Linked DNA regions of Homo sapiens. The protein of the gene in region 1 purifies or fractionates together with the protein of each later gene. This does not show direct contact. Each region holds a gene or a part of one and is shown in the gene's direction. Other genes may lie near its edges.

The links. Proteins that work in one complex are often made in the same cells at the same time.
Region 2: the proteins of CEP120 (region 1) and POMP purify together in Homo sapiens (affinity purification with mass spectrometry, with the first as the bait; one large-scale study listed by BioGRID). This does not show direct contact.

What each region holds. Positions count from the first base shown.
Region 1 is NC_000005.10:123,416,904-123,420,403, reverse strand, and holds part of CEP120 (centrosomal protein of 120 kDa), read left to right. Parts: intron 1-1,888; coding exon 1,889-2,045; intron 2,046-3,500. UniProt on the Homo sapiens protein: Plays a role in the microtubule-dependent coupling of the nucleus and the centrosome.
Region 2 is NC_000013.11:28,669,130-28,672,629, forward strand, and holds part of POMP (proteasome maturation protein), read left to right. Parts: intron 1-3,209; coding exon 3,210-3,303; intron 3,304-3,500. UniProt on the Homo sapiens protein: Molecular chaperone essential for the assembly of standard proteasomes and immunoproteasomes. Degraded after completion of proteasome maturation. Mediates the association of 20S preproteasome with the endoplasmic reticulum.

The sequences.
Region 1 (3,500 bases):
AAGCTTTTACCATGAACAAAATTTGGGCTATGTACTAGATTCCAAGGATGAAAAAGACCATTTCTGTTATCTCTGTATCATTGTCTGCAGCAAGGCAGGCATCTGTTTGTTCCCTTCACATCCTCTGTTCTCAAGCTTGTTGGAAGCTGCTAGTTATAATAATATGGAAAATATAGGTTCTTTGACATATATGACATTCATTTGGGGAAGCTAGGTATCTTTTGGAGCAGCAGAAAATGAGGTCCTGAGATGGGCCTCTGTTAATGCTAATTGGGAGAGCTGTGCGATGTGTGTTAATACTCCTAATACAGAGTTTCAATGAGAGCCTCAGGCTTTAACTCACAAGGTTAGCAGTCAAGGTCTTTTTAACAGCTTAATTCCTACACTTCCCCCACAAGTAGCTTGTACCAGGGTGAGTAGCAGCAGGGATTTCTTCATTAATCAATGGATAAAATTCCCCTCAATAAGATCCACCTTAACAGATTTATAAACAAGAGAACTAGTTGACTCAGTGCAAGATTCTTAGTGCTTCTTCGTTGATGTTCTTTAGCTTCCTATTTTCAGTTTTTTTTGGTTTGTTTCTCTTAACTAGATCCTCAGTTTTTTTAGAGCAAGTACTCTGTTTTACTCATTTTGTACCCCACCATCTGATAAAATACCTGACTCTGAATATGTCTTCAGTAAACATTGATGAAATGGGGTTTGGCAGTACAAATGAAAAGTGATGTGTAGATAGAATATTTGAATATTTCCTGATAGTGTACAGTGTTGTCCTTGAGAATAGAATGAAGGAATCCATGTGGCTATTTTTCTTTAGCTAATTTGGAAAGTATTCTGTTTTTTTTTTTTTGTTTTTGTTTTTGTTTTTTTTTGAGATGGAGTCTTGCTCTGTTGCCCAGGCTGGAGTGCAGTGCTCACTGCCACCTCTGCCTCCCGGGTTCAAGCTGTTCTGCCTCAGCCTCCCGAGTAGCTGGGACTACAGGCGCATGCCACCACACCCGGCTAATTTTTTGCATTTTTAGTAGAGACGGGGTTTCACCAGGAAAGTATTCTTAACTGAGTTAACAGAAAAATTAAGCTGCAGGCAAATTTGTTTTTACTAATTTATTTCCCAGCTCTTCAGATGACTGTTCTCTATTAAGTAGTGCAATAGTAGTACCTAAAATTCGTGTAATCACATTAAGTGTTTAATTCCAGATGTTGTTGAGATCATTCCTACTCAAAGTGTGGACCAAGGACAGCAGCATTCACATCACCTTGGATCTTGTTAGAAATGCGGAATCTTAGGCCCACCCTAAATCTACTGAGTCAAAATCTACATTTTAACAGGGTCCCTAGGTGATTCATGTGCACACTAATGTTTGAGAAGCACACATTTATAAATTATAGCTTTCCATTTGATTCATGTTTCTTATGAATTATGGAAGTGAGTGTATATGTGAGCCTGCATTAGTGAGGTAGCTTATGGAATGCATGTCAACCACACTTAACAGATCATTAGTTTTAAAAAAACACATGCTAGGCTGGGCATGGTGGCTCATGCCTGTAATCCCAGCACTTTGGGAGGCCGAGGCAGGTAGATCACCTGAAGTCAGGAGTTCCAACATGGCAAAACCCTGTCTCTACTAAAAATACAAAAATTAGCTGGGTTTGGTGGTGTGCACCTGTAATCCCAGCTACTTGGGAGGCTCAGGTAGGAGAATCGCGTGAACCTGGGAGGCGGAGGTTGCAGTGAGCTGAGATTGCGCTACTGAACTCCAGCCTAAGCAACAGAGTAAGACTCCATCTCAAAAAAAAAAAAAAACCAGCCAAACAAAAAAACACATGGTAAATGATCCTGTTTGATTTTTGTACACTTTTGATTAATCTATATATTCTGTTTCTCCAGGTCGGCATTTCCCCAAACGTCCAAAGCATATGCTTGTAGTGGAAGCAAAGTTTGATGGAGAACAGTTGGCTACTGATCCTGTGGACCACACTGACCAGCCAGAATTTGCTACTGAGTTAGCTTGGGAAATTGACAGGAAAGCGCTTCATCAGCACAGGTGATTATCATTTTCATTTTAGCTTCTTTATTGGTTTCTTATTTTTCAGGCTGTTATAAATAAATACAGTTTGAGTATTTAATACTTGGGACCAGAAGTATTTTCGGATTTTTGGAATATCTGCATAATCAAAGATACCTTGGGGATGGGACCCAAGTCTAAACATGAAATTTATTTGTTTTACATTATACGCATAGTCAAAGGTAGTTTTATATAATATTTTAAATAAATTTTCATAAAATGAAGTATGTTAAATGCTTGTGTGTGGAATTTTCCGTTTGTGGCATTATGTCAGCACTCAAAGTTTTAGAATTTGGAGCATTTCAAATTAGGAATGTTCAACCTATAAATTTTGTATCTGTCATTACGTTTAATAATTATAGTTATTGAGTGTTTTTTTAAATGTGACAGGAAATTTTTAAAGTACTTTGCAACAATAACAGTTAAACATCAGAACAACACTATGAAGTTGTTATTTTTATTTCGCCCATATTATAGATGAGGAAACCGAGGCCTGAGATGTTAAGTATTAGTAACTTGTTTTAAGTCTGTTAGCTTAGTAGTGGTAGAGCCCAGGCAATCCAGCTTCAGAGCCTAAGCTTTTACACTACACTTACACTGAGCTGTTTGGGTTTTTTTTTTTTCCTAATGTGTGAGACAGTAGATATTCTAGAAATACCTTGATGATACCTACTCATTATTAAATATGGTTGGAATTCCTTGTAATTTCTGTTAATTTATTTATTGTATATTTACCTGGCTTGCCAAGGATATATAGAGGGGTATCCAGTGAAAAGTTATGAAAGTAATTCTATCAAGGTTTCTTTCTAATTAATTTATATTTAATTTTAAACAAAACCACTTTATTAGTATATAAAATAGACTTAAAGTTATAGTATATATTTTTTGTGAACTCTGACTAGAAGCAGGCAACAACAATAAAAGCAATACTCTTATTTATTTAAGGATTAAAAATATATTTTCTTCTGGAAAACATGTTATCACTTTAATACTTGCTTGTTCTCAGTACTAAATTAAATCAAAATGGAAAGTTAAAAAAAAGGAAAGCAAGGAAAACTCTATTTACCTCTGTTGCTAGAGTAGTCCATGGATTTATTTGAAGAAGTATTGCATTCTTAGAGAATATCAATGTTGGATTTCCTTTCAGTGGTGTCTATAATGGAGTCCTGCTATGAGCTGTTAGGGCTTCCATTTTGTTAGTGCCAGGTTAGTACCACTCTGATTGTTGTAGGCTGAGAAAATACAGATAAATTGAATTTATAAGTGATGATTTTGTGCTAAGTGCAGTTCTATAATAACTCCACTAGATAAAAGCAGTGGCAAAATCCATTCAGCTTAATGCATGAGCCAGTTGAGGGGTTCCGAACTAAAACAGCCCATGCTAAACAAGCCAATATCATTCTTTCAGAACACTGTTATGTGTTATATTATTAA
Region 2 (3,500 bases), on another chromosome or scaffold:
TTCAAATTCCTTTATAGTAACTTGTCTCTCATTGAGTGTGCTTTTGCTTCTTGAAAAGTTGTCTACATTTGCTTTCTATACTCCTTTCCCTGCTATTTATTTAACCCACTGTTTCTGTCTCCCATGACACCAATGAAACTGCTCCTGAACAATGTGGACATTTTTACCTTCACTTTACTTCATCTCCCTGTAGTATTTGACACTAATAATGGCTTCTTCCTTTTTCCCTTGGCTTTTATGTTTTTACTTTGTATTTATTTTTTTGATACAGGATCTCATTCTGTCATCCAGGCTGGAGTGCAGTGGTATGATCATAGCTCACTGCATCCTCAAACTCCTGGGCTCAAGCAATCCTCTTGCCTCACTCTCCTGAGTAGCAGGGACTACAGTCACTTGCTACCTCGCCTGGCTAGTTTTAAAAATTATGATTTGTAGAAACGGGCTCTTGCTATGTTGCCTAGGCTGGTCCTAAACTCCTGGCCTCAAGCTATCATCCCACCTCCTTGGCTTTTAGAACACCACACTTTCCTGATGTCCTCCTTTCTGAATCCTTGTTCTCAGGTGTCTCTGTGTAGGTTCCATTTGTTTTGCCTGTTTCCTAAAATGCCAGTTTTGTTAGTGCCCCATCTCTAGTCCTTTCCTGACCCTATTTCCTACTTGTTGCTTTAGTTATCAATTATATGTTGATGATTCCAACTGGGCGTGGTGCCTCACACCTGTAATCCCAGCACTTTGGGAGGCCAAGGTGGGTGGATCACTCAAGCTCAGGTGTTCAAGACCAGCCTGGGCAACATGGCAAAACCCCATCTCTACAAAAAAAAATACAACAAATGTGCCAGCCGTGGTGGTGCACACCTATAGTCCCAGCTACTCAGGAGGCTGAGGTGGGAGGATCATTTGAGCCTGGGAGTCGGAGGTTGCAGTGAGCCGAGATCGTGCCACTACACTCCAGCCTAGGTGACAGAATGAGACTCCGTCTCAAAAAATAAAATATGTTGATGACCCCCAAGTTACAATTCTCATGAGCTATAAACCTATAGGCTTTTCCAATTGGAAAGCCCAATTGGAAGTCCCACAGGCACCTCCAGTTTTACATGGACAAGTACAGAATAACTCATAATCCCATAATCCCCCACATACTCCTTATCCCATATGAATAGGTTTCTGCCTAAGGCAGAAATTGGATAATTAGCCTTGGTTATGTCACCTAGCACCCATCCTAACCTCTTCCCCTGCTCCCCCAAATCATTCAGTTTATTACTTGCTCTCCCCACCATTGCTACTATGCTGGTCCTTGCCCCTGTCAGACTTCATCTGGATTACTGCAACACTCATCCCTGCTGCCCCTCCAATCCTTGTTAAGACTCTAATCAGAATAATCTTTGTAAAACACAGATTTGATTATGTCATTCCCCTCACTTTACCCTCTAAATAAAAATAAAACCCAACACTTAGTGTGGCTCTGTCCATGAATTGGCTCCTTGCTTCCCACCACACTTCTTATCCTCTTAAACTACTTGCAGTTTCCTAATTCATTAAGTTCTTTCACTGTTAGGCGTTTGCACACATTTCTCCTACTGGTGCAGATTCCTTTCTCTGACCTAGCTAAATTGTCTTTTTCAATAAATTTCTATTGGCCGAGCTGGGTGGCTCATGCCTGTAATCCCAGCACTTTGGGAGGCCGAGGCAGATGGATCACCTGAGGTCAGGAGTTCGAGACTAGCCTGGCCAACATGGTGAAACCCCGTCTCTACTAAAAATACAAAAATTAGCCAGGCCTGGTGGCATGTGCCTGTAATCCCAGCTACTCGGGAGGCTGAGGCAGGAGAATTGCCTGAACCCAGGAGACAGAGGTTGCAGTGAGCCAAAATCACACCATTGCACTCCAGCCTGGGCGACAAGAGCAAAACTCCATCTCCAAAAAAAATAATAATAAGATAAATTCTACTAATACTATCAATTGTATTTGGCTAAGTCATTCTGGAAGCTACTCGTTTTCCAAAGATAAAGCTCTTAAAAAACATGGTTTTGAGTAACCTAGGGTTGAATCTTGGCTTAGCCATCTACTAGTCTTAAGAACTTGAGTAAGCTGGAGAGCTTTCTGAACCTTAGATTTTTTAATTTAATGTGAAATAAGGAGAACAGTAAGAGTAGCATAGGATTATTCTGAAGATTAAATGAAATCACATGTTTGGCACAAAATTGTTAGCTTCCCTTTTTATTTTCCTCTTACTCAGATTTCAACTACAGATTGCTCAAATTCTGGATTTAAGTTTTTAATACTATTTGATCCAAATATCTTTGCCCAGAATTCTCTGTCTTTTTTTTTTTTTTCTTATCTCTATACTTTTGCAGTTTTGGGTTGTCAAGATGTATAACAGCTGCCTGCTCCTCCCTGCTTTTGATGCATTCTTAGGACTGTACTCTGATCTAACTACCAGACCCCTTGCTGTCTGGTTTAATTTACAGGTTCCTATTTTTGTTTCTTCCTCTTCCTCCCACTTCCTTTTTTTTTTTAGGTTTGACAATCTAGAGAAATTTTTCCACACTATAAAGATTTTAAATATCTCTATGGAACATTAGTAATTGAAAATAATATATTTAGTCTGGATACATTTTGTTGGGGGTGGGGGGAATGTGAGAAACTGCCCTCTTAGATTCTAACGGTGTGATTATCTTTAAAATACTACTATCATTTAGTCAAAGACCACCTATTTTGGTAGTCTGTGGGAATATCAAAAATTATCTGCATTAGCTGGGCTTGGTGACATGGACCTGTAATCCCAGTTTTAGTGGGAGGATCACTAGAGCCCAGGAGTTTGAGACCAGCCTAAGCAACCTATTGAGTTGGACTTTCTTCAGGAATTTGATCATCCTACATGTATCAGGAATGAGGCGTGATGTTAAGCTCTGGGATTTTGCATTTCATTACATGGTATATGCCGTAGTTTTCCTGAGCAGAAGCAAAGCCTCAAAATACATGCACACCAGGTAGGATTATTGTTAATGAAAAGTATAATTTCAGTGTCTTTACAACTTAGTTTGTGTCTAAAATATGAACTAGTGTTTTTTTCCACTTGTTAAATTGATCTTGTATTTGGTTTTGCGAATTTTCAAACAAAGAATAAAGAACATGAAATTAGACTATATATTCTGTCATTTTCCCCTGAGTTTTTTCTAATCTTGTCCCTTCATACTTTTCCCCAAAGGTTCAGCGTCTTCCATTTCTTTCAAGCTCAAATCTTTCACTGGATGTTTTGAGGGGTAATGATGAGACTATTGGATTTGAGGATATTCTTAATGGTAAGTGTCATTCAGCACCTTTTTATGGAGCCCTTGTAATTTAAAAGGCAAACAGCTGCAAAAAGAATAGGCAAAATTCTTGTCCTCATGGAACTTACAGCTGATTGGGTTCACTTTATTCATTGCATTAAGATAAAGTTTAATGGTAGTAACTGTTCTTTAACTGTTTTTAAAAGTGAAGATTGGCTGGGTGCGGT